Regions from separate parts of the Homo sapiens genome. Here region 2 is linked to region 1. The links come from fine-mapping of genetic effects on gene expression. A gene starts in region 1. The other region holds a variant in brackets. All regions are shown on one strand. Distances are between the middles of the regions. Region 1 holds the start of HECW1 (HECT, C2 and WW domain containing E3 ubiquitin protein ligase 1). Region 2 holds the start of LOC124901619 (a long non-coding RNA gene).

Evidence for each region. PIP is the estimated chance that this variant, and not a neighbour inherited with it, causes the effect.
Region 2: its variant is fine-mapped to the expression of HECW1 in fibroblasts (GTEx, PIP 0.94).

Annotation. Positions count from the first base shown.
Region 1 is chr7:43,109,559-43,114,928 of GRCh38, forward strand. HECW1 (HECT, C2 and WW domain containing E3 ubiquitin protein ligase 1) reads left to right here and starts at 3,089. Exons shown (of 30, transcript NM_015052.5): 1 at 3,089-3,379; 2 at 4,599-4,833.
Region 2 is chr7:43,245,790-43,251,159 of GRCh38, forward strand. All of the region lies in intron 3 of HECW1 (HECT, C2 and WW domain containing E3 ubiquitin protein ligase 1), which reads left to right. LOC124901619 (a long non-coding RNA gene) reads right to left here and starts at 3,509. Exons shown (of 2, transcript XR_007060295.1): 1 at 3,394-3,509; 2 at 1-10. The variant A/G (reference allele first, on the strand shown) is at 3,096.

The DNA.
Region 1 (5,370 bases):
GTGACAGAAACTACTAAGAGAATGAAAAGACAAGCCACACATGGGGAGGAAATATTCAGAAAACTTATCTGACAAAGACATTGTATCTAGAATACAGAAAGAACTCTCAAAAATGAACAATATAAAAGCAAACAACCCACTTAAAAATGAGCAAAAATTTTGAGCACTTTACTACAAATGATAGACGGATGGAAGAGAAGCACAAAAGTAGATGCTCACCATCATTAGTCATTAGGAAAGTCCAAATGACAATCTTGTATTATTGGCTACAATTTGCTCCTGTGCAGAGACTATGTGAGATAGCTTCAACAGCTCGGTCTTTTTCCTCCCCTAGTTATAGTGCGTTCACTTCCGACATTATGTTGAAGGCCTATCCCCAAAGATAAAGCCCCGGATTGGTTCAAGTTATCGTTTTCTCAGCATTGTAGGGACCATTTGTGAATGGTGCTCTGTTTGCTAATCTTTATCTGCATGTGGCCTGAGATGAGCAGGTGAGCAGGCATGTCACCCCCTCCCTGGGTCCTCCTGGGCCTCGAGTTACAAAAGGTGGAAGATTCGGTTGCATGGGCATTATGATAATACAGGTGTTTGTATATGCATCTCAAAACCTTCAACATTCACTTTACGCCATTATATAAGGTTAGTATTAGGAGGGACGCACTGGGACTGTGACTTATTATTTATAACAGTATTTTGAGTACATTAGAAACTTAATAAATATGACTACTAGGATGGCTTTAAGATTCATGCCATGTCTTTTCCTTTCTCCACCAAATACTCTTCTCTTTAAGGTTAGGGCAGCTGACATCTGTAAACTCCAGATTCAAGGTCTTCTGCTTGAAACAAGACTTAAGGAAATTACAGAACTAACATAGCCTTTTTGCTTTCTTCTGTAAAATAGGATCATGCTACCCAGACTACAGGGGGACTGTTAGGAATAACAAACAAAACAGGCCAGGCATGGTGGTTCACGTCTGTAATCCTAGCACTTTGGGGGGCTGAGGCAGGAGGATTGCTTGAGCTCAGGAGTTCAAGACCAGCCTGGGCAACTTGGCAAAACCCCATCTCCACTAAAAATACAAAAAACAAATTAGCCAGGCATGGTGGCACACACCTGTACTCCCAGGTACTCGGGAGGCTGAGGGGGGAGAGTTGCTTGAGCCTGGGAGGCGGAGGTTGCAGTGAATGGAGATTGCACCACTATACTCCACCCTGGGCATTGGAGTGAGACCCCTCACAAAAAATAAAAATAATAAAAATAAAAGGGGACAATACACAGGAGTCTGTATATGCTGCCATTGCACCTGACATGTAGAAGCTGCTCTACAAGGCTTCTTTATCTACTCAGGATGTGAAACTTTGTGTACTGCTATTTTAATATCTTTTGTCTTCAGTATAAAAAAAGCAACTCCTCAGGGGAGGATAAAGCACACCACAAGGATTGCTACATCAATAACCTCTATGAGAGATGTGGACTTGTCAAGTCATCTCCATGATGGATAGAACAGAGAGCAAACATCTCTGAGCCAAGTTGATGCTGATTCACTGAAAATAATGAGGTGAACATCCTGGCAATTAGTTGAGGTAAAAAAATTATCCTTTATTGTGGTTTGGTGACATTGTGCTAATTTAGAAACCATGGATGCTGGTTTATGTGAAAGTTTTTGTTTTCTTTCAAGTCTCTGGTTGGAAACATCACATGGTTGGTTGCTGTTGCTGTTTACTGCCACAGCCTGTTCAAGTCTATTCTCGGAGAGTTTTCTTCATATAGGAGTTGGTACTAATCCAAGTGTAAAATCCGGAGAAATGTGTGCACAGCTTTCTGTGTGGATTCTTAGCTAAGGTTTGAAAATGGTCTGCTTTGAGCTCATCTGACCAGAAGATCTGACTGCTGTCAGGCAAAGAAAAGGGTCTGTCAGGAAAGGACTGGGCACCCCAAGTGGAATACGGAAAGAGAAGGGCTGTGCCTCCTTGCAGAAAAGAGCACAGCTGGTGAAGCTGCCTTCACATCGTCCAAAGTTTCCAGTTCTGGAAAGTTCCAGTTGTAAGAGTGAAATCAATGCCAAGAGGCAGGTCAGTGGAATGAGAGGCACTGAGAAACTAGCCACTGTGGGTGGAAGGGGAAGGAGATTTGGTTTTGACAAGTCCGTACTCAGGTCTTCAGTAAGGAGTTCTGAAGTCAGGGTGAAGCCTTTGTTTATTCTAGAGGAGGCGGAGTTTGGGGTCTGGGAAAGAAGATAACTTCTCAGAAAGTGAAAAAAAGCTCATGTAGAGGATGCTGGGCAAAATAATGGGAAGGAATAAATCAGCATTGTAGAGAATGTGGTTGGATCATAAAATCCCAGGCTATAGAGATTATGTGCTCAAAGCCTCTGCATTTTATGTGAACACACACAAACCAAATGTCGACCAGATGCACAAAAATGTGCATACATGGAGCAGCCAACCACCAATAGTAACCAGCATTTCACTTCTCTTTGCATCTCAGTTGGCTGTACCTGGAAGGGTCTAGACTTTGCCTCCTTCTCGTTCTAGCATTCTGACACTGTGTGCAGTGTAATAGAAAACGCGGTTTGGGAGCTAGGTTTGCCCAACAATAGATATTCTGGGGTGATTTTCATCCTTTGCATTTGTCATTACGATGTTTTGTGTGCTTGTGCAAATACAGGACGGTTCCTGAAATGTGTCTCTGAGCGTTCTTAACTGTGTGTAAGGTAAGCGAGGAAAGTGTCTAAGACAGAGGCCAAGAACACCTGTCACAGGGTACCCGCCTAGAGTGTCTGTACCGCATCCTTTCTGCTACACTGTTTGCACACACACAAAAGGGCCGAGGAGCCAGGGTTGGTGTTGGATATGCCCAGTACGCGTGCTGGGTGTTGGAAGGATGGGGCCGGCGGTAACAAGAATCGATATATATTTACCGCGGGGGCGGGGGTGGGGGTGCGCGGAGGCTGCAGGGCGGGGCAGCGCTAATGAGAGCAAGCCCGGCTTGTGGTTGGTTCTGGAGTCTGGTACCCACAGAGGAGCAGGCAGGGAGGGAGGGGATGCAAGCGGGAGGATAAAGCGATGAAGTGTGCTGCGTTACCGCGCATCAGGCGCTGTTGTTGGAGCCGGAACACCGTGCGACTCTGACCGAACCGGCCCCCTCCTCGCGCACACACTCGCCGAGCCGCGCGCGCCCCTCCGCCGTGACAGTGGCCGTGGCCTCCGCTCTCTCGGGGCACCCGGCAGCCAGAGCGCAGCGAGAGCGGGCGGTCGCCAGGGTCCCCTCCCCAGCCAGTCCCAGGCGCCCGGTGCACTATGCGGGGCACGTGCGCCCCCCAGCTCTAATCTGCGCGCTGACAGGAGCATGATCTGTGCCCAGGCCAGGGCTGCCAAGGTAAGCGGGCGTAGCGCGGGGACACTGTCTGCCGCCCCTTCCCCCCCGCCCTTCTCTGGGCGGCTTCCCCGCCGCACGCGAGGCCCCGGCAGCGCCCTCCCTTCTCGGGGCCGAGATCCACCCTCCTCCCCACCCTCTCGCTTCTCCCGCGAGGTTCAATTGTCAGCCTGGGTCGCGCCGCCGCCCGGTCCGGGCCGGCATCCCCGGGTGGCGACCCCGGCTTGGGTACTGCAGGCGCACCCGGCCCTCCTGCGGGGTACGGAGAGAAACAAAGAAGCCCCCAAGCGGGTTCGCAGCGCCTCCCCCGCCCCTCAGCGCCCTCCCAGTGGCGAGGAGGTGTCAGGGGAGGGGGCGGAGAGACCTACGTAATCCCCCTTCCCAGCCCACACCCACCCCTTGTGAACCAAAGCTCTGGATTTGCGCTTCGCCTTGGGCTCGCTTTTGAACAATTGTGTCCCATGCAATGCCCGTGGTTAGCCCAGAGAGCGCCCAGAGCCTCCGCACGGGCTCGCCGGTGCTCGCTCGAGGGGCGCGTGGCCAGGTCCGGCCCTTGCTCCCATGGACGGGTGCAGGAGGGGAGGAGGCGCTGTGTGGGTGCTCCCCCAGCGCCTCCCTGTTACCGGCCGGCTGCGCCGCTCAGCCGGGCCTGCCACCTGAGTTTTAGCGGGAGCAGTCATGTCGCCTACCGTATTGCGACTTGCAGACAGGCAGGGAGGGAGCTGCCGGGGCGGGGAGGGGGGGGGAATGCGTCCGGTCCATTTTTGGCTGGAGGTGCGCTTCCTGCTACCCCCACGTTCCCGGGCGGTGACAATGCAGCAAAATCCGAGGGCTCAAACAATGTGGCCCCTCCATCCCCGGCTCCAGGGCATTCTGATTGCTCTGCCGCTTTGACGTCCCGGCCACTTGGCTGATTTTCAGAGCCATGATGCGCGGTGTCTCTGTCTTGCACACAGAGGCTGGGCACCATAACTTCTTCCCTGCCGAATTTCAGCGCGTAGGGGGAGCTGGCAGGGACACAGGCTGCAGAGATGCCCGGCTTCCTGTGGTTCCGGGCACAGCGCGCCTCAGTCTGCATTGGGCTGACACCAGAGAGCATGTGGGGATTTTCCTAGTTGCCGAAGAAGATATTATTTGACGTTGCTGTAGTTTTGTGCTTACTTCTCTTGGAATCTGCAGTGGTGCAATTCTCCCCTTGTTTTCCCCCCTTCTCTTTGAAAAGATATCAATGCTATGTTCAGCAGAAACGGATACAGCAAGAGCAGCATAGTTCAAAAATTGAGGGAGGCATCTTCTCTCTTTTCCTGGGATTTAAACGCGATTTAGGAGGGCAGATGCCCTACCCGAAAAGGCCAACCGTTAAAGACCCCGGCAGTGTTGTGGTCCAAGGCGTCTCAAAGCAGGTGGCCAGATCTGCGTTTCTCATCAGCAGACTCACTCCGGCTGTGGCTATTACGGTAATTCATTCTAGATTGGGGATTCATTTAAAAATGTGTGTTTTCCACTAAGAAGGGATTAGAGTCCACATGCCCACCCTGGTATGAATGTGTGTGCCTGTTTGGTAGAGAGATAGATTGTGGTAGAATTCCCTGTTGGTAGAATTCCCTGTTGCCTGTTCCCTCCGCTTGCTGCTTCCTCTGGAATGTGGCATTGGAAAAACAAAGCACTATTTTAATTCCTAGACCTCCAGGCAAATTGGCCGTTCTAGTGTTTTATTTAATAATCCACGTTCTGACTAATTCCACACTATAATCCCAGTCTAGTGCAGTTGGCTGCTTTGTGGAATGACAGTTCTCTTTTTTTTTGGAGTAGTTTTTTCATGAAGGCAAATTGCCTAAGTTTGTTTAGATTGTGACATTATTGACTTGATAGGGAGGTCACATCCGGAGCTGGAACAGCCCATCAATGTATCAATACAGAGGGACTGCAGCTCTGTTATTTGTGTATATAGCATCATTTGACTTGATTCCTTTTACACTCTGGCTTTTAAAGAT
Region 2 (5,370 bases), 140 kb after region 1:
CACAGGGAACCTGAAAGGACAGGATGCAGCAACCTTATTTCCAGGTTTCCTGGAAGTTAAATGCAAAGCTCCTTACCCCGCACCTTACTCAGTAAAGGGAATCTATGGCCCCATAACTTCTGTGCTTTCATGTAAATCTTCAAAATTAAAAATAATCTCAAAGTTCCCTACACCTTCCCCTAATATTTTATAAGAAGATTCATCATGCTCTGAAATGAGTCTGCAGCACTACTAGGTGGACTTATGAAAATATCTGGAAATAAGCTCTGGAGGCTAAGGCAGGAGGATCACTTGACGCCACGAGTATGAGACCAGCCCGAGCCATAGGGAGATCCCATTTCTATGAAAAATAAAAAAAAAAAAATTAGCTGGGCATGATGGTGTGTGCCTGTAGTCCCAGCTACTGAGGAGGCTGAACAGGGAGAATCGCTTGAGCCCAGGAGTTCCAGGCTACAGTGAGCTAATATGGCACCACTGCATTCCAGCCTGCGTGACGTAGCAAGACCTTGTCTCTAAAAAAGAAAGGAAATAAACTAGGGATCATTTAATTGACCACTTAATGTATTTTCAGCTTCTGGAATGATCCTTAGCAGGATGAATGCTTATCTCTGGGAGAGGCTCATACAAGGAAGAATTTTATGCTATAAACACCGGTTCTCAACCAGGGGTACATCGCAAACCACCAAGTCTAGCTCTGCACGTGAAGCCTGTGTAGTTGCACACTGAAAAGGTCTCTAGGTAATTCTGGTATGCACTCCTGGTTGAGAAACACTAGCTAGACCTGACGGGAACTAAGCCTTTCCACATCTGTGAATAAGAGAATGAGAAAGAAATCTGTGCTGAAGATCTTTATGCTACAAAGACAAGTATCTTGTCACCCAAAGATGGCTTTCTAAGCCTATCAAAGGCCCTCTGTGGAGAAAAAACAAAACATGCATTGCAAATGACTGGCATCTCTGTGTCTGTTAGGTCCCCTGAGAGGGCAAGAGAGAACTAACGTTTGTGACAGGGAAAGGGAGGAAGTGGAATTGTGTGGGGGCTGCAGCCTGGCAGAGCCTCTGCCAGCCCAGTGGACTCTCAGGAGCAAAAACTGCCTGTTCAGAGACCCAGTGTTGGGTGGGAATGGCTAGACCCCTGCATCCCCAACTAGCTTAATGTTAGGCCAAGGCACCCTAAAGAGAGCCTGAGCACCCCTCCATACATAGGTGGAGTGGAAGGAGTTGGTGGCTGGAAGCTGTCAGCTGACAGCATCCTGACAACTAGGCAATGAATCTGTTCTTAAAAGAGAAGCACAGCTCCATGTCTGCTATACTCTCCAAAGACTAGAAAATCAGTTCCTCTGGGCTGTTCAGAGTTTAGCTCTGTTTTGACTACAATGCCAAGGTGTGATCCTTTGGTGGAATTTACTGCCTTAAGGTAGAGGAATGAAGGGAGGACAATGGAAGAAATATGCAGGAAAACTTGGTTCATTTGATTTCCTTCTGTTTAGGGCATGTGCTAGATGGCAGGACATGGAAGAATAGGGCACTAAAATTTGAGGGATCATAACAACTTCTCATGTCGAAAGTGAAGCCCAGACCAGGCACAGTGGCTCATGCCTGTAATCCAGCACTTTGGGAGGGGGATAGCGGGAGGATAGCTTGAGACCAGTCTATATAAGCCTGGGCAACATGGTGAGACCCCATCTCTAATAAAAATAAAATTTTAGCCAGGCATGGCAGTGCACCTGCAGTCACAGTTACTCTGGTGGTTGAGGCAGAATTGCTTGAGCCCAGGAGTTAGAGGCTGCAGTGGGCTATAATCGTGCCATTGCACTCCAGCCTAGGCAACAGAGCAAGATGCTATGGAAGGAAAGAAAGAGAGAGAGAGAGGAAGGAAGGGGAGAGGGAGGGAGGGAGGGAGGAAGGAAGGGGAGAGGGAGGGAGGGAAGAAGGAAGGAAGAAAGGAAGGAAGGAGGGAGGGAGGAAGGGAAAGAGAGGAAAAAAGAGAGAGAAAAAAAGAAAAGAAGGAGGGAAGGAAAGAAAAGAAAGAGAGAGAAAGGTAAGAAGGAAGGAAGAAGGAAGGAAGGAAAGAAAGAAGAAAGCAAGCAAGAAAGGGAGGGAGAGAGGAAGGAAGGAAGGAGGGAGGAAGGGAAAGAGGAAAAAAGAGAGAGAAAAAAGGAGGGAAGGAAAGAAAAAGAGAAAGGAAAGAAGGAAGGAAGAAGGAAGGAAGGAAAGAAAGAGAGAAAGAAGAAAGCAAGCAAGAAGGGAGGGAGGGAGAGAGGAAGGAAGGAAGGGAGGGAGGGAGGGAAAACAATGGAGAGAGGGAGGGAAGAGAAAGACAAAGGAGAGGAGGAGAGGTGAGGAGAGGAGAGAAAGAAGAAGAAAGAGAGAGGAGCCCAGAGAGGTTGTGTGTCATCAGAGATCACCCAGAGATCGCAGGGCTGAGGTGGAGCCCCAGGGCTCCTGACAGCAACACCCCTCTCCTGACACAGAATGGGCATTGTTACATCAGTCTCCTTCACCCCATACTCTACACAATAAAGAAAATCTGTGGCTCCAGAACTTTTATGTTCTTGCTTAAATCTTCCAAACTGAAAACGATCCTGAGGTTCCCTACACCATACCCCGCCCCACCACATCCTTCATCTAGACACATCCTGGGTCTAGAACGTATCAGGAGACAGAGGTGTAGAACCACAGCCAGCTTCCCTAAACTTCCACTAATCTCCGGCTTGCTTTTGGTTATAATGTTGTGCAGATATAAATTGACAAAGTCATGAGAAGCCTCTCTTCTAACTCTGCAGTTTGTCATCCTGACACCAACAGAAAATCAGGACATCATTAATTCTCTACACTTATTGATTTGGAACCTCCATTGTAAGGCCGGCTGCTTTACTCTCCCTCCTCCTCCTCCTCCTCCTCCTTTTCCTCCTCCTCCTCCTCCTCCTCCTCCTCCTTTTCCTCCTCCTTCTCCTGTCCCTCTTCCCCCATCTCCCCGTTCTCCTCCTGTTTCCCCTCCCCCTCCTCATAGTTTTCAGGGTCGGAGTCCTAGGCCACTCTATTGCAACAGCTACCAAAGAGAAAGGGGCTGAATCTGTGTGCATGTGAGGCCAC[A/G]ACCTCTAGACCCCAGTGACTTAGGGGCCTCCCTGCCTCCCCTCTAGCTCTTCGCCAGTCATTGCCTGAACTCGGCTTTCCTGGACCTTAGGGGATAAATAGTGTGGTCCAGCACTGCCCTGGGTGAGCTGAGTCATGCCCTTGGCAGGGTCGAGGAGCTCCCGTGAGGAGACCAATCGCCTAGCGTGAGTCTTCTTCCGGGATTGCTCGCCCTCTGCCCCCTAGGTGCCGGGCGCCGCCCGTCCCCACCTCCATCAGAACTCGGGTCATCTGCGGAGCCTTGGCTGCGGCCCGGTACCTGGGTGTGACTCCGCCACTAACATTTTCCCAGCAGGAAGCAGCAAGCTCAGCACAGAAATAAAACTGTCCTGGTGAGTCGCTCACAGCCTGTCCCAGTAACTGTTCCGGAGCGTCAGCCTGACGCAGCACCCCTGAAGGACCACGCCGTGCGGGCTGCGAGCCTCGCCCTTAACCATGCCCAGCAGGACCAGAGCTGCCAGCACAAATGAAGGTCCTGGCCATTGAACAACTTCTGAGCCTGCACTTTAAGAAGGCGCTCTTGTTTTGAATACGTAGTCTGTCCTGTTCTTTCAAAGTAAGTGCTTTTATCAAGGGCCTGGACTGTCTTTTAAACATATTTTTTTCTCACTTGTACATTAAAGGGAAATGTATTTCTGTCTAGAAAAGGAGACCGGGAGAGGAATGAGACTGTGCGGTATTCAGGCTTGGTTTAAACTAGGGCATGCACACTGCATAGCTATTTTCTTCAGGCAGCATGTGGCCAAAAAACATGCGTGTGTAGCTGACTGTTTTGAGCTTTGTTTATTTTAAGTACTGTATACTGAGGGATTTTGTTCAAGCAAAGGAGTACCAGCTTTATATGCAGCCACAGATGCCTCTCTTGCTTGGTAGTGCTAGATTTAGAGCTCAAAATTTTCCTTTTCAGCAAGAACTAGAAGTTCCCTAGTAGTATTTTTTCCCCTCATGCCTGTTTGCACTGTGCAGAATTCTTAGAGAACACGGCTTTGCAAATGTTCTGCGGCAGTCTCAGGATAGCACGGTATGTCAGCAGATATGGGTCCCGGGCCTGTTTGCTTAGCTATGCTTTCTTAATGCAGGTTCTTGCTTTACACGATTTCAGACAATAACTCAGTATTTTCATGATCACAGCTGAATATACGCCACGGATGGATGTGTATTTTTCTTCCTCTCTTGCAGATTTTTTTTAACCAAAACACACACACACACACGCGCACACACACATACACACACACACAGAAATACAAAATAAAACTGGATTTGGTAGCATTGTATTTGTCTTAAAATTCTGGATAGGGATTATGCTGGGTCACTCTGGTCCACAGCAGCCTCATGAACTACTCTGAATTCGATGACAGACCCTGAAATGAGGGGTCTGTGACACCAACTCAGCCTGGCTTGGATGTTGTAGATGGGAGCATGGACCAGTCATTCCTTTTCAACTGGGCCACTATTTATTGAGCGCCTACTGTGTACCAGATATAGTCAAAAAATGAGAGATACAGCTGTTAGCAAACAGGTCTCTGGCCTCCTGGAGGTTTTATTCTAGCTGTGAGAAGGAGTGTCAGAAAATGAAGAACCCACACAAGTGTAGAACACAATGTAAAGCCCTAGGAAGTGCTAAGAAGAGAGGACAGGGGAAGGAAGGTGGAGAAGAGAGCGCCAGGAACGTCCTGTGTGTACCTGCCCTGCCTTGTACTTCCGCCTCTGGGTACAATCTAAAAACCCATGCTGTCTCTCTGAACTTGCGTAAAAAAATAGCCCAGAGGTCACCAACTCATGCTCCCTTGCAAGTTTATTTTATTTGGCTGCCGGTGCTTTTTGATTTTTTAGGTTTGATTTTATTAATGATTTTTTAAATAAAAACAGGCAATTTTATGTAAAAATTCAGAATCTTAGCTTCTCTTGAAAAAAATCAAAAGCTCCTACAGTCCTGGGCCCACCCTCTGCTTAGCCACAGAGCTGAGTGAGGAGGGCCCTGTTAGGCCGGAGGGCATATGACCTTCAGATCCTCACAACTCCTACTTAGCTCACCTCCTCTGAAGGCAGCTGTGTTTTAGCCTATTTTGTTGCTGGCCCTACAATCATTCGTTACTTCTCCCAGGGCAGCAATGCTTCTGGTGTCAGGGACCCCACCCCCCTTACTGGATGGGCCCTGTGGATGCTTCCTCCTCTGGCTTTCTCTCCCAGTCATTTTATTGAGGTTTGCCTCTCCTTGAGGGCTGCAAGGGGTGGT